Homo sapiens: one gene and its partners. The protein of the gene in region 6 purifies or fractionates together with the protein of the main gene of each other region. This does not show direct contact. Each region holds a gene or a part of one and is shown on either strand. Other genes may lie near its edges.

Region 1 (3,500 bases), on a different chromosome or scaffold from region 6:
TCACTGAGAGTAAAGCACTGACCAAAATATGGTCATTTACTCTTGTTGGAGCTAACATCATGGTAAATAGACAAACAATTAAGTGAAATATATATGCAGGTATGTTAAAAATTTTTGATTTGCTTATATTCTAAACTGAGCAATAATGGCTAAAACTGAGTTGTATATTTAAGTAGTTTTGAATTATGAATAATAACTCATAGCTATCACAGTATCTGCCATTGTTAAAATTGTTAACATTTTCAGAAAGAAGGGACAATAGCATTTACTGGATACTTATTTTGTGCTGTTAGACACTGGAATGTATGTATCTTAAGATGCTTTCTTGAAAGACAGGTAAAATGACCTTAGGGACATGAATTCTAGAATAGATCAATTTTAACCTATAGACTAACTCCTTTGTTGGAATAATATCTTTATATGCTGTAATTTTACCACCAAAAGGTCCTTCTAGGATAATAAGCGCCCTAGAACCATATAAAGAGAATATTTTGATAAACGCATCCAGATTCAAAAGCAGTGATTTTTCAAGGTGTGGTAGCTCTAAGTAGTATACCCATCATATCTGCTTTTACAATATAAACCCCCAAAAGAAAAGTGCCATAAAATCTTGGCTGATTTATCTAAAAAATAGAGGGTTAAAGCATAGTAAGGGCATAGGTCAAAAAAAGGTCAAGAAATAGAGCCCTAGAGATAAATACAAGTATGTTAAAATATACGTATAAAGGAATAGGAAGATGCCAAAAGCAGTCTGTTTCAAAAGTCTGCCTAGGGTCAACCCTAGACCCTGAAAAGACAAAATTAATACTTTTGATTTTTTTCTCCTAAGACCAAGGGAGGCTCAGTCCTAACACTAAAAGTTTAGCAATACGAATATTTATGAGTTAAATCACAGAATGAGTTAAATAGGCTTACATGCATTGGCTTGGGAAACTCTATCCACATAGTGTACACTGTTCCTTCAGGAAAATATAGCTTAAATTACAAGTAATCAATTTAGGGACTCTTGGAATACAACTCTACTCAGTAGTTGGCCTGAATCAAACGATTCCATTTATTTCATGATTACAATAATCAATGTTTCCACAATATCCTGCAAAATTGCAGAATTTTATAACAACTGCATAAGTGAACTGTGCCAAAGATCAATGATAAGTAGCTGACTGAAGTCTACATTTTGTGGCTTAACCAGCACCAGTTTGGCTACCATCAAGCAACGCTGGCAGAGCTGCTTAAGAAACTAATATTCCGACACTGCCATCTGTATTATATAAATGGCTATTTTTGTTCCTTGAACTTTATTTTGGGTATGATAATGTGGAAGAATGTAAGCTACCTCTTAGGGTACATTCTGATGATGTCAAGATGAGTGCTCTCATTCTGGATCTCTGAATTCTCCACACAGAGAAGAGCAGTAGTAGTTCCTATGGCTATTAGTTAGCCTGGAAACTTTACACATGTGACCAGTGTGACCAAGTTCCCTTCAGTCTTTAGGTCACTGGAAAAATCTAGTAAAAAATCAAAACGAAACGCCAAAAACCCATTCACTTGAAACAAGTCTCTCAATAGCTGAAACTTTCTTGACAGAGTGTTTTTGTCCTGGCATTACAATCCATACAGGCAAAGAAAAAAACCAATGTGCGATGCACATTGATAATACAAAATTATTTTATAGGTCTCAAATTATACATAATTCATAGCGAATAGATGTTAGGAACACACAAAAATGATGTTAGCAAAGTCAGAAAAAGAATACGTATATAAAATGAATACTAGAAAAATAATCAGCTCACCAGCACATCCCTCATTAGGGCAGCTATTCACTGCAGCTATCCCTCTCCCCTCCATGTCTATCCAGGCTCCTACAGATGTCTGAACTAGTTACTCTACCACAGAACAAATCTCTCCACAGCAACTGCAGAACATGTAGGTACTCCAAATCAAATCAATCCTAGTTGACTTCAAAATTATATAATTAATTCTGTTTTCATAATGATGAAAAGCTCTAGGAAAGCTATACAGCTTCCTTTTATGTCTTTAATAAAAAAACACCAATTTATGATTTATTGTAGAAAACATACATTATAGGAAAGAATTAGTATCTTTTTTTTGAGATGGACTCTTGCTCTGTTGCCCAGGCTGGAATGCAGTGACGTGATCTCGGCTTGCTGCAACCTCCACCTCCCAAGTTCAAGTGATCCTCTTGTCTCAGCCTCCTAATTAGCTGAGACTGCAGCTGCATGCCACCATACCTGGCTAACTTTTTGTATTTTTAGTAGAGATGGGGTTTCACTATGTTGGCCAGGCTGGTCTTTAACTCCTGACCTCAAGTGAGCTGCCCGCCTTGACCTCCCAAAATGCTGGGATCACAGAAATAATTAGTATATTTAAAAATAGCAAAACCCAGAGTTTGGGCCTTACATAAAGAAGAAATGAGTCAGAAACTAGCCTACAGTTTGAATGACATATATTAGTTCCAGAAATTGTAAAATTTCTGGACAACTCCCTCCTTTACACTTTTAGTATTCTAAACATCACTGTATAATAGTGTATTTATAATAGTGTATTATTTGTTTACATTCCTAATTACTCCCTACTACACTATAAATTCCTTAAAGACAGATATCACATATTATTCATCTCTATTTCTCCACTCTCCAGTACAATATCTGACATACAATAAATGCTCAATAAGTGTTCCTTAAATAAACTAGAAGTATAACCTCAGTTGAAATACATAAACCTCAACTCCCAATTCTAACACACCCATGTGTGCATAGTTACATATATAAAAGGGATAGGTGCTATTTTAATTTTCTCTTTATAAAGATGGTATTTGATTTGAGAACTAGAAACCTTGTATTGCATAACAGAGAGCTACACAGTTTTCCAGGGAGTAGTAACATCAACTTGATCTTAATCACAAAGTAATGCCTCTCAGCTAAATATGGTAGATATTATGAAACTGATGTCATGGGGCTTTAATTCTCAAACTGAGGTGATCTTGTAGAAAACAGAGAAATGTCTTAAATAATTCTGAAACCCATTCTATATAACTTCTAAAGAGATTTTAAAAAAATCACTATTAAGCAACATTCATCACCACTAATTGTTTGCCATGTGCCAATAAGTTGTGCTAAGCATTTTGCTGTATCTCATGTAACCTCAATGATATGAGGAAGGTATTATTACCCTATTTTACTAAGAAATATTTTTTAACTATTAGGAAAAAAACCTTAGCTTTAGAGATGATCTGAACCAATGTTCTCATTTTACATATTAAAAAAACAAGAGGATGAATATAAAGAAATTAGTGTTATGCAGGCAGATATCTGGTATGTAGGAACAAAAGGGCACAGAGGAAAATATACCAACAAAGGCAAACTTAGGAAAAGGTCTAATCTGTCTAAGAAATGGTCAGAATTCATCTTATTAGATAATTGACACAAACTAGGCTAGGGAAGGAGGTTTTGACTAAGCTGTGTATTAAATAATTGATA
Region 2 (3,500 bases), on a different chromosome or scaffold from region 6:
GGGAAGCACCTCCCTGAAGCTGTAAGTTCTAATAATCAGCTGCCCAAAGGAGGGAGCAGAGGCAGGCTTCCCAAGCAGGGTGTTCAGTTTGGCCGCAGAAAGTGCTTCTCTTCTGAAGGTCCCATCACACTAATGAAGGGAAAGGTGACCTGACCCTGGAGAGGCCAAGGGAATCCCCCTCCTGGGCTGCTTCCCAGGAATAGGGATACAGGGAATACCACAGGCATGAACACGGTGCCAGCTATGATAGGAAAAGAAGGGACAGAAGCAGGGTCCAGACAGCTAATCTTTATTGAGTGATTTCTATGGCTAGGCACTGTTCTCAATATTCCACACATCTCACAATGTTCAACAGCTCTTGTGTTGTGAGATTCAATTCTCACCTCATACACAAGCACTAACATTACCACACATCACACCAATAAGGTAACTAATGCCCAGAAAGGTGACGGACTCCCCCATAAGGCCACATAGCTGGTCAAGAGCTGGAGCCGAGATTCAACCATTCAACCCAGGCAGTCGGCTGCAGTGCCCAGGTCTCACCGACTTAGCAGCCTCCTAAGGGAGAAAGGCTGTCACACCAGAAAGCTGAACCCTGACCCAAAAGTGCACCCATCCCTCTCATGTCCTGCCCCTGTCCCTTTGGCAGAGGGAAGAGGAGGCCAAATTATTCAGTCTGAATCATTCCTGGGAACGCTCATCTCAGGCCCCCTCCAGACTCTGCAACTCCACCAACTCTGCAGGATGGTGCAGAAAGGCTGGAGAGGACACTGGAGCCTGTCTGCTTGTCTGCTGGTGACACTCACATCCTGGGAAGAAGTGAAAATGTTGCAGAGTGGATGACGAGCCAAGCTGGGTGGGGATAAAGGAGCCTAAAAAAAGCCAGTCTAGAAAAAACTGCTGCCGCTTTGCCACCAGTAGCATTAAAATGACCTTAAATGTCCTGGCTGCTGACAGTAATTGTGGCCTGTCTTTACAAATTCAAATTTGAGTGCAGTGGGGCTGGAAGCGGCATCTGTCGGGATTTTGCCATCGTGGTCTCTGCTTTTATTTTCTGCCCCTGCCAGAGTTCCTTGCTCATGGTCCCTCCTCCATTAAATCAACAGCAGAGAATGAAAGTGCAAAAAAAGTCTGACAATGCTGGACGCACAGCCACAGCTTTCCCCACCTGTGAACCATCTGGTATTCCCCTTCCCTCTGTCCCTTCTTTATATAATCTCAGAATCTTGATGGAGCCCCTGTGTGTGCACTGGACTGAAAGCCCATCGTGCTTTGCTGGGCTTCTTATGCATATTAGTCCTGGTCCTTTTATTTGTACTCGTTGCTCCTGGAAAAACTGAGATTACAGGATACAGAGGAAGCTATAGCCAACGAAATGGTGGACTAGCCTTTAAAATCACCCTCTCCTCCTTTCTCTAATCTAAACAAAGCATCTCAAGTATTTCCTCTGATGGAGGAGCAGGAGCAGGCTAGGAGGAGGTCAGGCCGCAGGCGGCTAGCAGGATACTTACTTTGAATGAGGTAATACACAATGGCAAAGCCCCCGGCATAGAACACACCGTGGAAAAGGATCCTTGCTCCCAGAGGCATTGACCGCCTGCTTCCTGCATACTTAAAAACAAAAGATACAAATTTATTGTAGGATTCCCAGTTTTGTGCCAAGGGGATTTGCCCGGCTTGGACCCCTAAAGGAAAGAAGCATTAAGGAAGCCAGAAAGGAGGCCAGACCGCCCTCCCTCATTTGCTTCCTTTCCAAATGCCAGGGTTGGTTCTGAAGCCAAACTGAGTGCCCTCCTGAGGGTGCCCTCTCGAGAGTGGCCCATGTCCAGGACCCATGCTGTGGGGGCCCTGCCACCCCCAGCCAGCCCAGCACAGAGCGAGCATTCAGCCCACCATCCTGACAGACACAGCCCAGACTGTGTGCCAAGCCCCGCATGGCCAGGAAGCACAACCACTTTGTCTCAGGCCAACTGGTAAACAGGAAGCTTATCCTTTGTGGCAATGGCTGGTCCTGTAAGCCTGCGAATGGGCTGGAGCTGTCACTGGCTCCTTTCATATTTTGAAAAATGCACCACCCTTGGGATGAGGAAACTCTGGTTATGACTCAGGCTGAATGAACAGATGGAGGGATGCCAGCTCGGTAAATACAGCATACCATCCATCCACTCTTATAATATGTAAGAGTATCAAAATGAGTGTAAAGTTAATTACAGTAATGTGATCTGGGAAAAGTCATTTAGTTCTCATAATGAAAACGGTCAGAGCATCTCTGAAGAATGTATTAGTCAGATCTTGCTTAATTTGAAGAGAGCTCAACAGGGTGAGGCAGCCAGACTGGGTTATGGAGAGGTTCCCAGAGTGTTACAGCTTCCAACGCCAGCATGAGACACGAGAGAAAGACAGAGTGGGAAACAATGCAGAAAATGCCCATCCCTCCTGTGAAGTTAAAGCACAAGTGAACCCTAAAGACCAGGAGAAGCCCATAACTATTCAGGGAGTGACTTTCTTCTATTGTCTAACTCGAGAATACCCTGGCAGGTTCTAGTGGGGAACTTGGCCCTGGAACATTCCATTACCTTTTGCCACATCATAGCACAACTCTCTTGAAAATCATCAAAGGCAAGTTGTCCTGCAATTAGAAAAGATTTTACATTAAAATCATATTTTTAAAGCCCAGTTCTCTCTAGTCTCATACAGCCAAGATTTATTACCAACCCAAGCTTTAGAACACGAACAAGAAGTTAAAATTAAACTCTAAAACAAGCCTTGTCTGTGAAAGGCCCTGGTTTTTCCCCCTTCTGCTGCCAAATTAGGAAGAAAAAACAAAGCCTGCGGGTTTCCTGTCTGTGTCCTATGTAGTTTTTGTTACAGCAACCAAAGAACCGGTGTGCACAAGGGAGAACCGCAGACAGCAAGTGCTTTGACCACAGCACAAACACAGGGCCAATCAACAGGAGGCTGGACCTGCAGAAGCAAGATGCTAGCAATAAAAGCTGTACGTGACAGAGTGAAAACAGCACTTCAGAGTTAAAAAGAAACAATAGTACAGTAAACTTATACATGGACTTTAACAATATTGATAATACCTAATACTTCTGTCTCTGACTATTATGTGTCTTGTACTATTCTAAGCACTTTATATAATTCATTTAATTCTCACAACCCTTTGAAGTAGGAACTATTATCATCACGCTCATTTTGCAGATGAGTAAACTGAGGCACAGAAAGGTTAAGTAACATGCCCAAAGGTGCACTAATAAGTGAATAAGTGGTAGAACTGGGATTCAAATTCATGCAGTCTGGCTCCAGCATCTGCTCTTTCAACCACTGTGGTACACGAGCTTTAAGATATCTAATTAAAGCAATATTGAAATGTGAAAACAAACAGTGTCTCTGAGCTAAAATATATTCTTACTGTTCAGTGTAAAAGTCCTTGGCAGGCATGCCTTTCCTGCTATTTTTCCAGACAAGGTGGATACATATTTGTACCTTCATTCCTT
Region 3 (3,500 bases), on a different chromosome or scaffold from region 6:
TGAGGACTGCTGAGGAGGGGTCTCAGTGGGCTGTCCTGCTGCAGGACGAGGCTAAGGGCAGAGACAGGCTCAAGACTGAGCTTCTGGGTCTGAAAAGCATGGCTTTTTCAGAGGCGGCCCACTGAGCTGCTTCCTGAAGCAGGAGCAGCCCATAGAACAGTTTAAGGCATGGGAAAGGCTTCTGCCAAAGCCAGGAGTCTCTGCCCCCTAGTTGGGAGCAGCCTGGGGTCCCTGGCTCCTCCTGGAGTACTCGGGGTGAACAGGAGCTGCTAAGCACAGGGAATGCTTCCACTGTGGAGGCCCAGTTGGCCCAGGCATCTCCAGTTCTCTCTCCACCAAAGGCAAAGGTGAAGACATTTGAAAAATGGGAGACCGGTTTAAAGCCTTACCCCCACCTCCTCTCACTAATCCAAGACAGGCAGAGCCTTACAAACTCTCAATAGGCTCCCACTCCAGGGACAAGGACAGCAAGGGCCAGGAGAGGGTTGAGACAATGATTGCCAGGCCCGCAACCGGGCTGCAAGGTCCCTGCTTGCAGTATCATGGGTGACCCTGGCCCACTGCTGGCCAGCTGAGCTGTCATCTGGGGGAAGGGAGGTTGAATGGGGCCAGCCAGCAACCCTCCTGGGGGAGTAACATGGAAGGGGACCACATACAGAGTTGTCCCCGAAGCCCCCACCCTCCCGAGGGCAGACCCTGGCACACACCCAAAGACCCTGGCCAGAGCCCAGGGAGCACTCACCTCATCACACTGGGTGACACGGTGTGTGATGGCTTTCAGCTCGGCCATGGCCTTCTCATCCTGGAAGTCATAGGGGAAGGCCTCGGTCCACTCCTTCAGGAGCTGCACGATCTTGGCTGAGAAAGACTTCAGCTTGGCCTGGGGCAGCAGGGGATACAGAGTAAGGCCCCACAGGGCAGAGTAGGGTACTAGATGGCAAATGGTGCAAGCTTCCCACATCCCCAAGCCACACCCCAGGCCCTGTGCTGGGCACAGCCCCCAACTGCGTGCCACCTGCGGTTTGGCCAAACCTGAACCGCCACATGACTCCTGTTTGGTTCCTTCTTCCTTCCCCTTAAGTTGACTTTCTTTTTCACTTAAATAAACTTATATTAAAAAAACCCACCCCATCTCTAAGGTGACAAAAAACTAATTCCATTTGCTATAATTAGAAGTTACCCATAAAAGCAATACAGTAAAATAACCCAAGCCAAGCCATCCAGTTAGAGGAGAGCTCCCGTCTGCCCCCTGTGGTTGAAAGGGCGACAGCGCTGAAAGGGGTGTGACCCCGAGGGGAGGCGACGCGCTCCCGCGCCCTAGTCCACAGGCATGCACGACCCCACCCAGCACAGGGCCTAGGGCATGGGGACTGGCCCTCTTGGCTGAAACGACTCCGACCCTCTCGGAAGATGCCCGCGCGGCCTCTGCCCCCGGGGAGAGGGGACTGTGCCCGATGCTCAGGCGCCGCGCCCCCATCCTCCAATCCCCCAGAACGCACCACAGGCCAAGCCCCTCCTGCGCCAGCCAAGACTCCGCGCCAGCCCACACCAGCCCCACTCAGACCGCTGGACCCCGCCCCCGGCCCCCGCACCACCCAGCCCGCAACTCTGCAGCTTTCTTCGCCCACGCCGCACAGCCTCCAAACCAGCGGATTCCGCCCACGTTGCCAGCCTAGGCCCCCCACCACCCGCTCCCACCACGCCCCTAACCCGGACCCAACCCACAGCTCCAGCCCAGACCTCACCCCAGCCTGGTGTGGCGTCACGCCCCAACTCAGACCCGCCCCACAGCCCCAGCCAGGCCACGCCCCAACCCTAGCCCTGACCCCGCCCCCAGGCCCCACCAGCCCAGCCAGGCCATGCCTAACCCTAGCACTGACCCTGCCCCGAGACCCCACAGCCCCAGCCAGGCCACGCCCCAACCCTAGCCATGACCCCGCCCCCTGGTCCCACCCTGGACCCCACCCTGCAGCCCCAGCTAGGCCACGCCCAACCCTAGCCTTGACCCCGACCCTGCCCCAGCCAGGCCACGCCTCAACCCTAGCCCTGACCCCACCCCCTGGCCCCACCCTGGACCCCATCCCACAGTCCCAGCCAGGCCAAGCCCCAACTCTAGCCCTGACCCCATCCCCCAGCTCTACCGTGAACCCCGCCCCATGCCTCCAGCCCCTAGCCTTGACCTCGCCTCCTGCCCCCTGCCCCCGCCCGTGCCCCAGCCAGGCCCCGCCTCACCTTTTCAGGCCCGGCTTCCAGCTGCTGCTTCTGCTCCACGCAGATCTGCCCCACGCGGGCCAGCAGGTCATGAGGGGGCATAAAGACCCGGGAGCTCAGGAGAAAGGTGAAGATGTACGTCCTCTGAAGGCAGGAGACGGAGAGAGGGCGGAGGGAGGGTGAGGCAGGCCCCCGGGGGCTCACCGCGCTGCTTCACCTGGCCCGGCTGCCTCCCAGGCCCAGCACCGCCGGTCCCGAGGCCATGCCTTCACCTGCCCGGTTCCCTTCGCCTTGCAGGCCCTTCCTCCTCTTACTGCTACCCCGGCCCTGCCTACCTAGGAGGCACGGCTCGAGCCCCGCCTCCCAGCAGCTCTCCCAGGCCTCCTAGCAGTCTTCCTCCGCTGGGATTCTCCCCCTCTCTGCCCCACGCCACCATAGGGCTAACCCCAGCCTGGGACGTTGGTAGGGCTCCATGGTGCTCGCTGCGCCAGGATGCAAGCCAGCTGCTGTTTCAGATCCTCGTGGGCCGAGCTGGAGGTCAGCGGTGGGGAGGGTGGGGGATGCAGGGAGGTTGGCACAGGAGCGGGGCCTGTCGGGAGCAGGGCTGATCCATGGGGCGGGGCCTCATCAGCAGGGGCGGGGCCCCATCAGCAGGGGCGGGGCCCCATCAGCAGGGGCGGGGCCTCAGGGGCAATGCTGGTGGGGGCCCCTGCACTCTCTGACCAGCTCTGGGCCTAGACCCTGACTGCCAGAGCAGGGCCCCTCCATACCACATCCACGTGCCTTCCATCGAGATCCTCGTGGGCTGGGTTCTTGGGCCTTTTGTCTAATGAGGGTCAATGTCTGTGGGAACTTCACTCTAGCTCCTGCTTGTGGACAGGGTAGACTTGCAGGTTGAGGAGACTGCCTAGGGCTTCCTAGAGGGACTCTGCCCCACGTGGCTGCTGCAGGCTGGGCTGCCCAGAAGCCTCTGCCTCCACTCCCAGCCCATATAACCCGGTTTTTCTTGCCCCAGCCAGAAGCAAGCCAGGTTGTGCTTGCTGGGAGTACAGGCCTCCTGGAGCAGGACTCAGGGGCCTGGGCTGACACTGCCCACCGCAGCCCTCCCTGGAGCATCAGGGACTCCTCTAACATCCTGCAAACTTCCCACACCCTGCCCCAGGCTATGCAGCATGGCGAATTGAGGGGTCAGAACCAGCACATCTCTCAGGGTCCCCCTTCTAAGGAGACAACTAAGACGTGGAGGAAAGGCCCACCATGGAGCTCTTGGCCAAGGGCAGGGCACCCAA
Region 4 (3,500 bases), on a different chromosome or scaffold from region 6:
ATATACGGCATTTACCTCATTTTTAAAAACCTTGCCAGTAGGGAAATCTAAGCTGCTCTTCTCCCAGGGGCCTAAGAGGGAAATGTATCTCTTTTTATACTACTATGAGTGTAAATGAAATCACTCTCTGGTTATCATTATTGCTCATCAAGAATTCCAGCATTACTAACCTGTTGAGGGGTTCTATACCCCAAATTTTAAGTTTGTTTCTAACTCACAATGTAGTCATAAACAACGTTATAAATGGGCATAACTTAAAAATTATAGTTCATTCATGATGAAGTTAAATTACTAGTACTTGAGTAAGACCCCCATAGACTTCAAAAAGCTAGATGGCAGAAACTTTGTTGTATATATGGGTTATTCACATTTAGGTGTTTAAAACTTGGGAGTCTATGTTTCTAATCCTTACTTCAACATCAATAAATAAAGTGTTCAGAAAGGCCATTTTAATAAAAGTTGTTATAATAAAAATTTTTAATAAATATGTACACCCAGTGCTAAACCTTACAGTAGGGCTTACATTTTATAAAATGTACCTGCTTACAAAAATAATTCAAACCAGAATTCTTGTAGAAAATAAAAACCTACAGCCAAAGTTTCTTCCAGCTAACTGGAAATTAATCATCTCCTTTGATTTATGTTATGAGTAGGATGTCATGATGAGCCAGTCAGATTCTAGATATTTATTTATAGTTCTACTTAAGTGAATTTTATTTTGGATTAGGTTTTCTCAAGTTTTTCTAAATTCTTTCCTGTTTCTGATAATTCTTAGAGCTCAGAAAAGGAGATATTTATTTATGGTAGGCCCAGATCATTTTAGCAATATTTCCTTCATAACTGCTGGTAATAATGAATTATCCAAGTCAGCAATCATGTTAAAATTAACATAACATGATTATTAACTGTTGACAGATATTAACTTGACAGATACTATTAAAAATAAACTTATTTTACCTCACATTTAATTTTAAAATCCTACACTTTAGTTAAGGGTTAGAGAAAATGTGTCCCTATGGAGGAGGAAGCTTTTAAACTATATTCTTCATTTCAAAGAGAAAACATGTCCTAATTTTAGTAAGTGTAACTTTGTGTTTTTAAGAATCGTGAAAATGTCAGCTTTTGGGAATGTAAGCAAAGTACAAAGACTAATGCTTTCTGCTAATATGTTACACTGAAATGTATTTGGTTATAAAAATCTCAAAAACCTAATTGTATTTCAAAGCTATTATTCTATTTACATTATAGGAGAGATGCATATGTAAATAGAGAAAAGTTGGGCTTTTGTAGTCTAAAGATTTATTCAATCCATCATTAGGTAATTCTCAGGTGATTTATAACTTAAAACTGAAAACTTCCACAGTTAATTTGTAACTGCCGCATTTACAAAAAAGTTCTGGGTAATAGAACCTGTTAAAAACAGACTGGTGTTGCAATTAGGCCCAATACTCATTTATTTAAATCACCTAAGACATTTGCAAAATTTTTCAAAGTTAGGAAAATGCAGTTATTAATATGGCTTCATTCAGTTAAACCTATATTCTGCAAAATATTCCTGTTACACACTTAAGTACAACTGGATCAGCAGGATTACTTGCACAGAAAGTGAAGACTTAATTTTCACATTAAAATTATACCTGTTTCCTACTTTTATATCTCAAAATATTTTGGAGAAGACCATTAATGGTCTTGACTGTAACAGTTTATTGCATTTTTATGCCTCATTTTTCAATGTTACGTACTCTAGTTTGGAGTTTTAAGTTCTACTTTTCCTCTTATCTTCAAACAGACTCTTCAGCATATAAACTTGAATGGCTGACACCACCACCATGACCACTAAATTAACCATAGACCAGAAATTGACTCTATCAAAGTTGCTTTCTTGTATGTTTCGATCACGAGCTTCAAATGCTCTAAGCAGAGTTTGTATGTGCCCACTTTTGCTTAGTCTGGACTTGATGCTGTTGATGGATTCCTGGAGATAAATAAAATAATTTTATTATTAAAGAATGCTCAGAAATTTTAACTTAATTAAAAAATGAGGCTGGGTGCAGTGACTCATGCCTTGTAATCCTGGAACTTTGGGAGACTAGGGCAGGAGGACCCCTTGAACCCAGGAGTTCAAGACTGGGCTGGACAACACAGACAGACTCTGCCTCTACAAAAAGATGGGTATGGTAGCACCAAGTGTGGTCCCAGCTACTTGGGAGGCTGAGGTGGGGGGATCACTTGAGTCCAGGAGGTTGAGATTGCAATGAGCCATAATGGTGCCACTGCACTCCAGCCTGGGCAACAGAGTGAGTGAGACCCTGTCTCAAAAAAAGTTTTTTTCAAAATATGCTTTATGTTTTTTATCCAAACACAATTTTAAGTTAGATGGCTGCACAATTCAATTAAAGGGCAGGTACTATTTATATTACATTAGAGATTCTCTGTAAGGTTATATAATAGTTCTCCTGACATATTTATATTGTTTATAAGTAGTTATTTAACAAGGGAACAAAGCTACTGTGAATTGAAAATAGGTAACATGAAATTATTCTGAGTGGCATAGCATCAGGAGTTTTACGTACATTATCTCTTTCTTAGTCCTCACACAACCAAAGGAAATGACTAAGGTTTTTTTTTTTTTTTTTTTTGTCGGGGGATGGAGTTTGCCTAGGCACAATCTCGGCTCATTGCAACCTGAGACTGTGCCTGGTCAAATGATTAAGTTTTTAGAGATGGGGTCTTGCTATATTGGAGTGTAGTATCTATTTATATGTGTGACCATGGTTCACTGCAGCCTTGAACTGGGCTCAAATGATCCTCCCCCTAACCTTCTGAGTAGCTGGGATTACAGGTACCTGCTACCATGCCTGGCAAATGATTTCATTTTTAAAAACCCAATTGATATAACTTTAGGTATTTACCTATTACATAATGCATGTGTTTATAATATTTCCTTCTTTGTATGTTTATCTGAACAATTTAGTATTCAGTAAAACACCCAATGTTTTAATACCACAAAATAGTTGTGAAATTAGAAAACATTTTACTTTTCATATGCCTGCTGTATAATCAGAAGCATAATCTATTTATAATTTAAAAATTCTAACTGCACATTTATAAAACAAACTTACCAAGATGCAGTCTTATTTGCACATCTGAAGCTATTTTTATAATAGGGTCCTGGAAGATAAGTTATTTGAAAACTATAAAAGGGCTATATTAATATAAAATAAAATTAAGCTGATACTTGAGGTCAAAGTATTTATGGCAAAAATAAAATATTAGAAACAGATTTTCCTGGATAATGCAGATAAAATGCTTAGTTCAGTAACTTATTACCATAGTAAGGCCTCTGGCTGTTAATAATTTTTATTTTATTAGAAGACCATACTGACCAGGATGTCTTCCAGTTTCATATCCAATATATCTGTGCCAGTAATATATTTCTTCCAATCTTCTTGTTCTTGTGCCTGTTCTCCCATATTATCCAGGATTAATTCAAAGAAAAT
Region 5 (3,500 bases), on a different chromosome or scaffold from region 6:
TTCACAAGAATATAAATATTCTGAAAGACTCCTGTACACATTAGAATCTTTCGTGGTATAAACGGAAAAGGTAAATATGCTTAAAATTATGATTTAAGAATAAATTCCACTGATAAACAGAGATAATGAATTTAAGGAGGCTGTACATTTTTTTCTCCAATTATGATGCAATGATAGGTTTTACAGGATTGTAAGACAGATGATTCATAATATGAAATCTTGTATCAAACCAAAGAAAAAGCAATATAGAAATGGCACTAACCTAATTTCTTATCACATACAAATGGTATGGCAAAATGTTCATGTTTTACAGTTTTTCGCTATGTGGCACTAGATTACCGAGAGTGAAAAGGGAAGAATTATGGGGAAGCTGTGACATGTACTATAATAACATTCCTATGCTAAAAGCGACAGATTTTAGAAAACTGCCAAAGGTTTTATTTTAAATGGCATTATTAATAATGCATATTCAAAGAAACACCAGATATAATTGTGACCAATACATAATATTTCAAGACCCTGACTTTAAAAAAAAAAATTAGCTAGGCATGGCAACATGCTCCTATAGTCCCAGCTATTCAGGAGGCTAAGGTGGGAGGGCTGCTTGAGCCCAGGAGTTTGAGGGTACAGTGAGCTATGATTCTGCCATGGTACTTTACCCTGGGCAACAGAGCAAGACCCTGTCTCCAAAAAATGAATATATATAAAAATATATTTCATATAAATATGAGATATCATATAATATATATGACATATCATATGATATATATTATATGATATATATGATATATAATATTATGATATATCATATATCTATATATCATATATATTCATATATAATATACATGATATATATTATATGCGATATACATAATATATATAAAGACTTCAAAGAATAATATAAAAGAAATATCTAATTATTTGAAAGTATATTTGGAATTGCATTTTCTAAGAGAATCAAAATAAAATGTTGGGTTTGTTTCCTGGTATAATTCAGAAGACTATTTGGTTCATAATGCATATTTAAATCCACAGCATATTTACAATGAAAATTTATTTAAAGAGACTACTGAAGAAACAATATTTTAAACAGCAAAACTACATAATAACCATAAACTATTGTGAACACTGGTTTAATTTAAAAATAAGCAAGTAGAATAATTCTATTCAGTGGAGCTAAACCTTTGCTAAAAATTTCCAAGGAGTTTCTAAATTTCAGGAATTTGAAAGGCAAAAAGCACCAATTTTATTATGTCTAATGTCAGATCAAAGTTTATGACTTTTCCTTCTTGATGCAGGTATTACACTGACACTAAATTCAAACAGGCTTAGATATTGTTTCTTGGCCTACAAATGTGCCCGTGTTCCATGCAAAACCAGCAGGGGATTTTTCTGCTGCCAGAGGTTACCAAATCAGAGGAAGGAGGCTGGGCGTGGTGGTTCACGCCTGTAATCCCAACACTTTGGGAGGCCAAGGAGGGCAGATCACCTGAGGTCAGGAGTTCGAGACTAGCCTGGGCAGAGTGATACCCTATCTCCCCCACAAAAAGCCAGGCATGATGAAATGCACCAGTACTCCTAGCTACTTGGGAGGCTGAGGCAGGAGGATTGCTTAAGCCCAGGAATTCAAGGCTGCAGTGAGCTATGATCTCACCACTGCACTTCAGCTTGGGTGACAGAGCAAGACCCTGCCTCTAAACAAATAATCTATGAAAGACCCCAATCATCCAGAAATGCGGAAAATTCATTTACTTATGTTTTCCTATTTGATTTTTAAAACATTAACTCCTTATTGCATCTAGTATTTTGGTACTTGGGTGAAAATTATTGATTTTTCCCAAAATGGCAAATCAATTGTTTAGAATCATTTATTAAATATATGCATAGATTATTTAGATGTTGCATTTGTTCTAAGTCAAAATTAAAAAATGTTTTACTGAAAGTATTATGTCTAATAAATGATCTACCACTGCAAAAATATTAAACGCCTCTGCCATAACTAATTTTTAAAGCACATCTATTTGCAGATTAAGATATAATAATGTATGGTATATTTCAAAATAAGTAAATTTCAAATGTCTCACAATAAATGATAGGCAAGAAAGGTGATCAATATGCTAATTATGTTAATTAGCTTGATTTAAACATTCCACATTGTACACATACACCAAAACATCACATTGTACCCCATAAATGTATACAATTATGATCTGTCAATAAAAAATAATCTTATTAAAAAATTTTTTTAAAGATGTATTAAATCCTTTTTCTGCAGACAGAACACATCTTACCAAGCCTGAGTTTTGAGATTTGACTCAGAAAGTAGTACCATATATTTCTTGATTTACCTCCATTAATTTTTCTTAAGCTTTACTGAAGCTCCAAATTACAGTCCAACTGCTCAATACCAACCTTCTTGAGGTCAATTTTATAATAACAATACTTACCAACAGCAAGGAGAAGAATACTGGCTACAAAACAGCCTGCACCCACACTGAGGTAATAAACACCTACTCTCATTTCTGCTGGCCAAAGGGGGAAGAGGGTGGCCGCTATTACTGCAATCACTGGAACAAGAAATGACAAAAGTTAAATTTTAGAATAAAAACTTAAATGGTATGGCTGCACTAACAGAAACATATCCCTGGGGGAAAAACTGAGAAACATAAACACAGTGAAATATAAAATTGCCATTTTTATAGGTAAAAAATGGTCAATTATGAGCAATTTCATATTGTTCAACCTAACATTTTATACTATTCTTAAACTAGTTTTTATTAGTGTAAATTACATATAATTAGAAAAAAATGCTATGTAGAAATTCAAAACTGTTGCCTCCTTAATTTATCAACTGCCCCCTTTTTCAAGCTATATCTACTTTATTTAAAAAATACTAAGATATTTGCCTACTAAGTAAGGGAGCTAAAAGAAACAACAGAACAACAAAGCCAACAAAAAATGATTTCCAAGACCCCTCTCTGGAGATTCTTCTTCTGGGGTGGAGCTCTGACATCCACAGACTGAAAGATTCCCCAGGTGATTTCTGCTACAGATGTATTTTTTGGTGCTTAGGGAAACTGTTTACAAGTGTCTCCAGTTTTTTTGCAAGTAAAGTGGGGACACAAGAAAGAATTATAAGAAATTAGAAGCCTGGTTATTAGGTCTTTAGAATAAGACCAGGATTAAAATTCTAGCTCCATCACTTATAAGCTATGTAACCCTGGGCAAGTTACTTAACTCTTTTGAGGCTAAGTTACCTTATATTTAATAAGTCTCTTCCTATTCTTCAAAGGTTGTTGTGAGGATGAAATGATATATTGTACGCAAAATATCTAGCAAAGTGACTAGTACTCTTATTATAAAAGAGTTATTTTGCTTTTTGTTTTCTGAAACAGAGTCTTACTCTGTCACCCAGGCTGCAGTACAGTGGCATGATCTTGGCTCACGACAGCCTCGACCTCCTGAGCTTAGGTGATCCTCCCACCTCAGCCTTCTAAGTA
Region 6 (3,326 bases):
CTTGAAGCCCCAAACTTCCAAGAGTGAAGGGGGCTACGGTGACATGGCAATGCTGCAAAGACAGCGCCGCAGCACTGGAGAGCTGAGCCAGCCTGGGGCCGAGGGGGACAGGAATGCACCGTGTGGACACCAGGCTGCCAAGAACCATGCCCTGCCGCTGGAGACAGGAGACAGGCACCCACGCAGCTGACCAAAGCTCGACCAGGCCAACGGCCACCGAAGATGTGCCACCTCATGAAGCGAGGGCACTGCTTCCTATCTCAGGCCTTTTCCTTCACTGAAAAACTTCAAACCAAACCAAGAGGAGTCATTTCTCAGGAAGAATTTAGTGTTATTAATTAGAACTCTCTTAAGTGAGAGGGAGCCTGTTGGCTGCTTTTCTTATCACCTTTGGCAACCACCCTCACCTGTAAAATCAAGATCTAACGGACGTGCGACATGGCAACCCACAGGAAGTCTCCTTAAGCCAAGACTTGCAACAGAAGCCCGGCAAGCGGGACAGACCGGCGGACAGACCGTTCCACGTGGCGGCTCTGCGTGTTACCTGCCCCAGCTTCCCTTCTTCACAAAACAAATTCACGTGTAACTTGACCCATGGTTTCTGGGCTCCGGTCCAGTAGTCAGTTTTGATAAATAGATTAGGCATTACAGTATTTACACTTTCATGGTATCAAGCAATACAAAACACAACCACAACAATGGTTACTGGCCTTCAAAAGCCGTTACAACAAGCTTCCCTGATGGTGTCCACAGCTTTACAAATGCTGGTTCTTTTCTTGATGGGGGGAAGAGTGGGTGGGGGACAAGGAATAGGGATGCAAGGAAAGAGGGTCACATGGAAAACACTGATTTCCAAAATCTGCTATAGTCAATAACATTAAATAGGAATAAAACCTTGTAATTATAGACGCGCGCGACAATAACATCCACATGACGGCAGAGCCAAGACGCCCATCAGCTTGTGTGACTGGTGCCTTGGGTGGCACTCTATACTCATCACACCGGCCAACAGTGATAAATGCCAGAGAGGGTGTCTCGGCCACTAGTGAAATGAAAAGAGGCCAGTGTGCACGTGCTGGCCCGGTCAGGGCCAGGGTGGCCAAGAGAAGGTGCAGCCGAGAATCAGATATTGGCTTCAGGGTCCTTTCCTTTTCCCTCCAATGCCCCAAACAGATGTTCATTCAACATCTGTGCAGGCCTCACCCATGGCCAGATCTGGGCACAGGGGAGCCACGCCACTGTTTTCAGGTCAACAGCCTCCTCCTCCGGGAGATCAGCGACAACAGAATCATACTGGGCCAGTCAGTCATGATAGCGCAAGGCATACTAGTGCCCCTTGGTCAGAGGAGGTCTCCGCGGGCACAGACGAGGGTCAAATGACAAGGAAACAGGTCCAGGGGCTTCGGAGAGAGAGAGAAAGCCCCTGGACCCTGGAGGTGGCTTATAGGAAAGCCAGCCCTGGGTGGTGGAAGGGAACTGAAGCAAGGAATGGCTGCAGATTTTAAATGTCCACTCCAAAGGGAGGACTGGAACTTCAAATTTAGTGACCATGGCCAGCAATGGACACTCTCAAAGGGCAAGGAGTTAAGGGCTTAAATAAGGAGATAGGCGAGACACCGCATCAGGCACCATCACCCTCACAGCAGAAAAGTGATTCGCAGTCTGTCTTAGCTCTGGGGCGCAGAATGTAAATGTAGATATACAAACATGTATTTTACTTCTTGTTACTCAGCAAGGAACTACAGATACATGCCTCACTGCGGCCAGGCCACAGGGCACAGCAAAGGCTATCCCGTGGCCTGGGAGTCTTCATCTGAACTCCGGCTGTTGTCGCTCTTCCTGAGGCCTTTCCATGTGTAGCCCACAAAGGTTGGGCTGATGGGTAAGTAGCTGAAGCATCTGTATTTTTTTATAATGTTCATGCCAAATGGCAAATTGTACGACTCCATGCCGTCGAGTGATTTGTTCCCTTTGCCCACACCCTTCTTCCATTTCCGGATTCCTCTTTCCTCTGGAGTGCCTGTCACACATCCCAAGATAGAACAAAGGAATGCTTCGTTTAGCAGCTCTACTGAAAATGAAACTGTCGTCAAACACATACACACACACACACACACACACACACACACACACACACACACACACACACACATGGTCCCACAGATCAAACCTGCCTAGATAACAGCAAAGAATACTTGAGGAGGTGAAGGTGCTCAGCTATCCAGTGCCCAAACCAGAAGTCTAAGAAGCACTAACCCCTCCATGTCCTCATTCAAGCAATCACCTAATGACCTTCTGACCTCCCTATCCTTCTATGTGACCCATATTCTCAATTTTCACTGTTAGGGCCCAGCTCAGGCCATGTTATTGCTTTCCTGGTTCATTCTATCGGTCTCCCATCTGGTTACCTAGTCTTCTGGCTCATCACCTCCTGCCCCAGGTCTGCTCAAAAACTACCTCTCTAGGCCAGGTGTGGTGGCTCACACCTGTAATCCAAGCACTTTGGGAGGCCGAGGTGAGAGGATCACATGAAGTCAGGAGTTCGAGACCAGCCTAGCCAACATGGTGAAATCCCGTCCCCACTCAAAATACAAAAATTAGCTGGGCGTGGTGGTGCATGCCTGTAATCTTAACTACTCAGGAGGCTGAGACAGGAGAATTGCTTGAACCCGAGAGGCAGAGACTGCAGTGAGCTGAGATCATGCCATTGCACTCTAGCCTGGGCAACAGAGCAAGACTCTGTCTTAAAAACAAAACAAAACAAAACAAAACAAACAACAAAACACACAAAACAAACTCTGTAAAATGTAAATCTGAGTCAAAAAAAAACCTCTTTAAAATGCAAATCTGAGTTTGCAAAACAGGGCTGAATCTTTATTGTATCACACAATGCCTTCATCAACCAGTCACTGCACATTCACCCCCCCATCTAGACAGACCCACACTTCATGCTGCTTTGCTCCATTTTAGCGTGTCTGGTGCTATGGGGGACACACAGGTCATGTACCTGTTGTGCTTCTGCGGGGATGAACATCCACCGGTTGGACACTCCTGGCCACTCTGCACCCTGACAGATGGGTCAGGGAGGAAGCTCTGAGCACACAGGGCTCAGCAAGGAAGCTCATGACTTTTTTTTATATCTAAGCTCTGCTCTCTCATCAGTATTTCAGAAATAAAGCTGACTTTAATTTCCATCAGCCTGACTGTTGCATCCCTCTCTCAATTCCCTCTGGCTTAGGAGAGAAAGAGAGTAGTCGTTATGGACTCTTAAATCCAGTGCCTTCCATCTATTTGTGTGTGTGATTCCTTCTGCCTTGGTTTCCCCA
Region 7 (3,500 bases), on a different chromosome or scaffold from region 6:
CTAGGCTTTTAGGCTTAGGTACTCTCTCCACAAGTATCTAAAACAAGGTTTACATGAGGGCAACATGTAACAAAAAGGAAAAAATCACCCCCAAAATCACAAAAGCCAATTTAAATGAAAGGCAGAGATGGTCTTATAGAGTCAGTGGAGACAGCAACAAAATTGAAAAAGACTATCTGTATAGGATGATCTCATTGAAAGGAGAAGCGGTCCCTATAAAACAACAATGAACAAAAAACAACTTAGGAATCAGTGAGAAATGGAGAAATAAAGACAAATATCTACAGACTATCTAATTACAGCCCCCACTCATTGGGTGAACGAACCTACATGACCCTTTTTTTTCTCAAATTCATTAAGGTGGATGACACCTTAATTTCTCTTTAAAAAAATGAATCTTTTACTTATTGATATTTTGCTTACCTTCCTTTATGTTTTTGCCAAAATTTATCAACCGGAGTTAAATCATAAGACTTCTTGTTTTTTCTCTTTGGTCTAGCACCAGCTGGAGAGTTTTCCACTCCTGAAGATTCTTCCAAATTAACCCTGTTTAAATGGAAATCCTAGGAAAAAGTAATCTTGTGTTAAACAACTGTTTTCTAAGTCTAATAAAAATAGAATCTTGTTGCCCTTTCTAATGTTTCCAAGGACAAAATATAGATCTGAAATTTAAAACATCTCCTCCCAATCTTTTGTTACATACAAATGTAATTTTGTTTCTGTATTTTAATGAAAGTATTAGATGTATATTAAAATTTCAAACAAGAAAAAGAGAAAAACATGTCAATATGCTTGTGTATCCTTCTAGAAAAACATTGATGCATATAATAGCACATACACATCCTCTTAATTTTATTTTTTAAAATGGGATTACAGGGTACATGTTATATCTTTTTTCATCTAATAATACATTTTACAGCTCTTTCTGTATCTGTATATGTACATTTACTTCATCTTTATCATAACTACACAGTAGTCCAATGTTTGGCTAAATCAACTTATGCAACCAGGCCTCCTGATGCTTGGTCATTTCCAGTAACAAATGTTATCTTAAATATTTTTAAACTCTTAGAGAGTCAACATTCTGATGTGTCACTTGAGTGATGAACTGCAATTTTAAAAATTACAATAGATGCTATAATAATAAGTGATGCCCCTCTTTCACACAAACTTTAAGAGTCAGGCCAGTAGTGGCTAAACTTTCTTGCCTAGGACTAATTTTATTCACGTGAGGCTTGATTTTTGTACCTTTTCTGTAAAAAAAACCAAAAAACCCCCCAAAACCCAAAACCAAACCAAACCAAACCCACAAAAACCATTAGGCAAAAATAAAAGTAAGTATCTTTTTTCTTTCCCCCAACTTCTTGCATTACATCTATGGGTTCCCTCACAAATAGCAGCATTTTATGGTTTAATGCCAACTAAAGAATAGTGAAAGATAAAACATGACTATCAACAAGTAAATGATTGATGAAGAAGGAAGACACAGTATGGAGAAATTATCCAGCATGACTGAAATATAATTATCTTAGTTCTAAGGTATCTGTATATATTTTGAATTAATGATTATTCTAGGTCTTAGCAAATTAAATATACTGAATGCAATTCAGTCTCCTTTAGATAAAACAAGGTTATCAATACTGACTCTAGGTCCTTAACATAAACCTTGTAACTTTCTCAAATAAATCTTTTATAATAGTTTATTTCCTTGCCATTTTTCTCTTTGACATAAAAAGCAGGATTTGAAAAATTACAGATGTCTACATACCCAGTAATGGGATTGCTGGGTCAAATGGTATTTCTAGTTCTAGATCCTTAAGGAATCACCACACTGTCTTCCACAATGGTTGAACTAGTCTACACTCCCACCAACAGTGTAAAAGCGTTCCTATTTCTCCACAGCCTCTCCAGCACCTGTTGTTTCCTGAATTTTTACTGATCACCATTTTAACTGGTGTGAGATGGTATCTCATTGTGGTTTTCATTTGCATTTCTCTGATGACCAGTGACGATGAGCATTTTTTCATGTGTCTTTTGGCTGCATAAATGTCTTCTTTTGAAAAGTGTCTGTTCATATCCTTCGCTCACTTTTTGATGGGGTTGTTTGATTTTTTTCTTGTAAATTTGTTTACGTTCTTTGTAGATTCTGGTTATTAGCCCTTTGTCAGATGGGTAGATTGTAAAAATTTTCTCCCATTCTGTAGGCCGCCTGTTCACTCCGATGGTAGTTTCTTTTGCTGTGCAGAAGCTCTTTAGTTTAATTAGATCCCATTTGTCTATTTTGGCTTTTGTTGCCATTGCTTTTGGTGTTTTAGTCATGAAGTCCTTGCCCATGCCTATGTCCTGAATGGTATTGCCTAGGTTTTCTTCTAGGGTTTTTATGGTTTTAGGTCTAACATTTAAGTCTTTAATCCATCTTGAATTAATTTTTGTATAAGGTTTAAGGAAGTGATCCAGTTTCAGCTTTCTACATATGGCTAGCCAGTTTTCCCAGCACCATTTATTAAATAGGGAACCCATTCCCCATTTCTTGTTTTTGTCAGGTTTGTCAAAGATCAGATGGTTGCAGATGTGTGGTGTTATTTCTGAGGCCTCTGTTCTGTTCCACTGGTCTATATCTCTGTTTTGGTACCAGTACCATGCTGTTTTCGTTACTGTAGCCTTGTAGTATAGTTTGAAGTCAGGTAGTGTGATGCCTCCAGCTTTGTTCTTTTTGCTTAGGATTGACTTGGCAATGCGGGCTCTTTTTTGGTTCCATATGAACTTTAGTTTTTTTCCAATTCTGTGAAGAAAGTCATTGGTAGCTTGATGGGGATGGCATTGAATCTATAAATTACCTTGGGCAGTATGGCCGTTTTCACGATATTGATTCTTCCTATCCATGAGCATGGAATGTTCTTCCATTTGTTTGTGTCCTCTTTTATTTCGTTGAGCAGTGGTTTGTAGTTCTCCTTGAAGAGGTCCTTCACATCCCTTGTAAGTTGAATTCCTAGGTATTTTATTCTCTTTGTAGCAATTGTGAATGGGAGTTCACTCAGGATTTGGCTCTTTGTCTGTTATTTGCGTATAAGAATGCTTGTGATTTTTGCACATTGATTTTGTATCCTGAGACTTTGCTGAAGTTGCTTATCAGCTTAAGGAGATTCTGGGCTGAGACAATAGGGTTTTCTAAATATACAATCATGTCATCTACCAACAGGGACAATTTGACTTCCTCTTTTCCTAATTGAATACCCTTTATTTCTTTCTCTTGCCTGACTGCCCTGGCCAGAACTTCCAACACTATGTTGAATAAGAGTGGTGAGAGAGGGCATCCCTGTCTTGTGCCAGTTTTCAAAGGGAATGCTTCCAGTTTTTGCCCATTCAGTATGATATTGGCTGTAGGTTTGTCATAAATAGGTCTTATTATTTTGAGATACGTTCCATCAATACCTAATTTATTGAGAGGTTTTAGCATGAAGGGCTGTTGAATTTTGTCGAAGGCCTCTTCTGCATCTATT

Evidence for each region.
Region 1: the proteins of SLC23A2 (region 6) and GLCCI1 purify together in Homo sapiens (affinity purification with mass spectrometry; one large-scale study listed by BioGRID and IntAct). This does not show direct contact.
Region 2: the proteins of SLC23A2 (region 6) and COA1 purify together in Homo sapiens (affinity purification with mass spectrometry, with the first as the bait; one large-scale study listed by BioGRID). This does not show direct contact.
Region 3: the proteins of SLC23A2 (region 6) and RASGEF1A purify together in Homo sapiens (affinity purification with mass spectrometry; one large-scale study listed by BioGRID and IntAct). This does not show direct contact.
Region 4: the proteins of SLC23A2 (region 6) and TMED5 purify together in Homo sapiens (affinity purification with mass spectrometry; one large-scale study listed by BioGRID and IntAct). This does not show direct contact.
Region 5: the proteins of SLC23A2 (region 6) and SEC62 purify together in Homo sapiens (affinity purification with mass spectrometry; one large-scale study listed by BioGRID and IntAct). This does not show direct contact.
Region 7: the proteins of SLC23A2 (region 6) and SCFD1 purify together in Homo sapiens (affinity purification with mass spectrometry; one large-scale study listed by BioGRID and IntAct). This does not show direct contact.

Annotation. Positions count from the first base shown.
Region 1 is NC_000007.14:8,073,296-8,076,795, reverse strand, and holds part of GLCCI1 (glucocorticoid-induced transcript 1 protein), read right to left. Parts: intron 1-3,500.
Region 2 is NC_000007.14:43,646,024-43,649,523, forward strand, and holds part of COA1 (cytochrome c oxidase assembly factor 1 homolog), read right to left. Parts: exon of another isoform or gene 3,416-3,500; intron 2,630-3,415; 5' UTR 2,592-2,629; coding exon 2,577-2,591; intron 1,612-2,576; coding exon 1,512-1,611; coding exon of another isoform or gene 1,435-1,511; exon of another isoform or gene 449-1,434; intron 1-448. UniProt on the Homo sapiens protein: Component of the MITRAC (mitochondrial translation regulation assembly intermediate of cytochrome c oxidase complex) complex, that regulates cytochrome c oxidase assembly.
Region 3 is NC_000010.11:43,201,066-43,204,565, forward strand, and holds part of RASGEF1A (ras-GEF domain-containing family member 1A), read right to left. Parts: intron 2,803-3,500; exon of another isoform or gene 2,657-2,802; intron 2,618-2,656; exon of another isoform or gene 2,547-2,617; intron 2,356-2,546; coding exon 2,233-2,355; intron 881-2,232; coding exon 743-880; intron 1-742. UniProt on the Homo sapiens protein: Guanine nucleotide exchange factor (GEF) with specificity for RAP2A, KRAS, HRAS, and NRAS (in vitro). Plays a role in cell migration.
Region 4 is NC_000001.11:93,152,914-93,156,413, forward strand, and holds part of TMED5 (transmembrane emp24 domain-containing protein 5 isoform 1 precursor), read right to left. Parts: coding exon 3,387-3,500; exon of another isoform or gene 3,345-3,386; intron 3,172-3,344; coding exon of another isoform or gene 3,123-3,171; intron 1,976-3,122; coding exon 1,757-1,975; 3' UTR 1-1,756. UniProt on the Homo sapiens protein: Potential role in vesicular protein trafficking, mainly in the early secretory pathway. Required for the maintenance of the Golgi apparatus; involved in protein exchange between Golgi stacks during assembly.
Region 5 is NC_000003.12:169,987,307-169,990,806, reverse strand, and holds part of SEC62 (translocation protein SEC62), read right to left. Parts: intron 2,568-3,500; coding exon 2,448-2,567; intron 1-2,447. UniProt on the Homo sapiens protein: Mediates post-translational transport of precursor polypeptides across endoplasmic reticulum (ER). Proposed to act as a targeting receptor for small presecretory proteins containing short and apolar signal peptides.
Region 6 is NC_000020.11:4,855,185-4,858,510, forward strand, and holds part of SLC23A2 (solute carrier family 23 member 2), read right to left. Parts: intron 2,021-3,326; coding exon 1,788-2,020; 3' UTR 1-1,787. UniProt on the Homo sapiens protein: Sodium/ascorbate cotransporter. Mediates electrogenic uptake of vitamin C, with a stoichiometry of 2 Na(+) for each ascorbate.
Region 7 is NC_000014.9:30,667,319-30,670,818, reverse strand, and holds part of SCFD1 (sec1 family domain-containing protein 1), read right to left. Parts: intron 564-3,500; coding exon 424-563; intron 1-423. UniProt on the Homo sapiens protein: Plays a role in SNARE-pin assembly and Golgi-to-ER retrograde transport via its interaction with COG4. Involved in vesicular transport between the endoplasmic reticulum and the Golgi.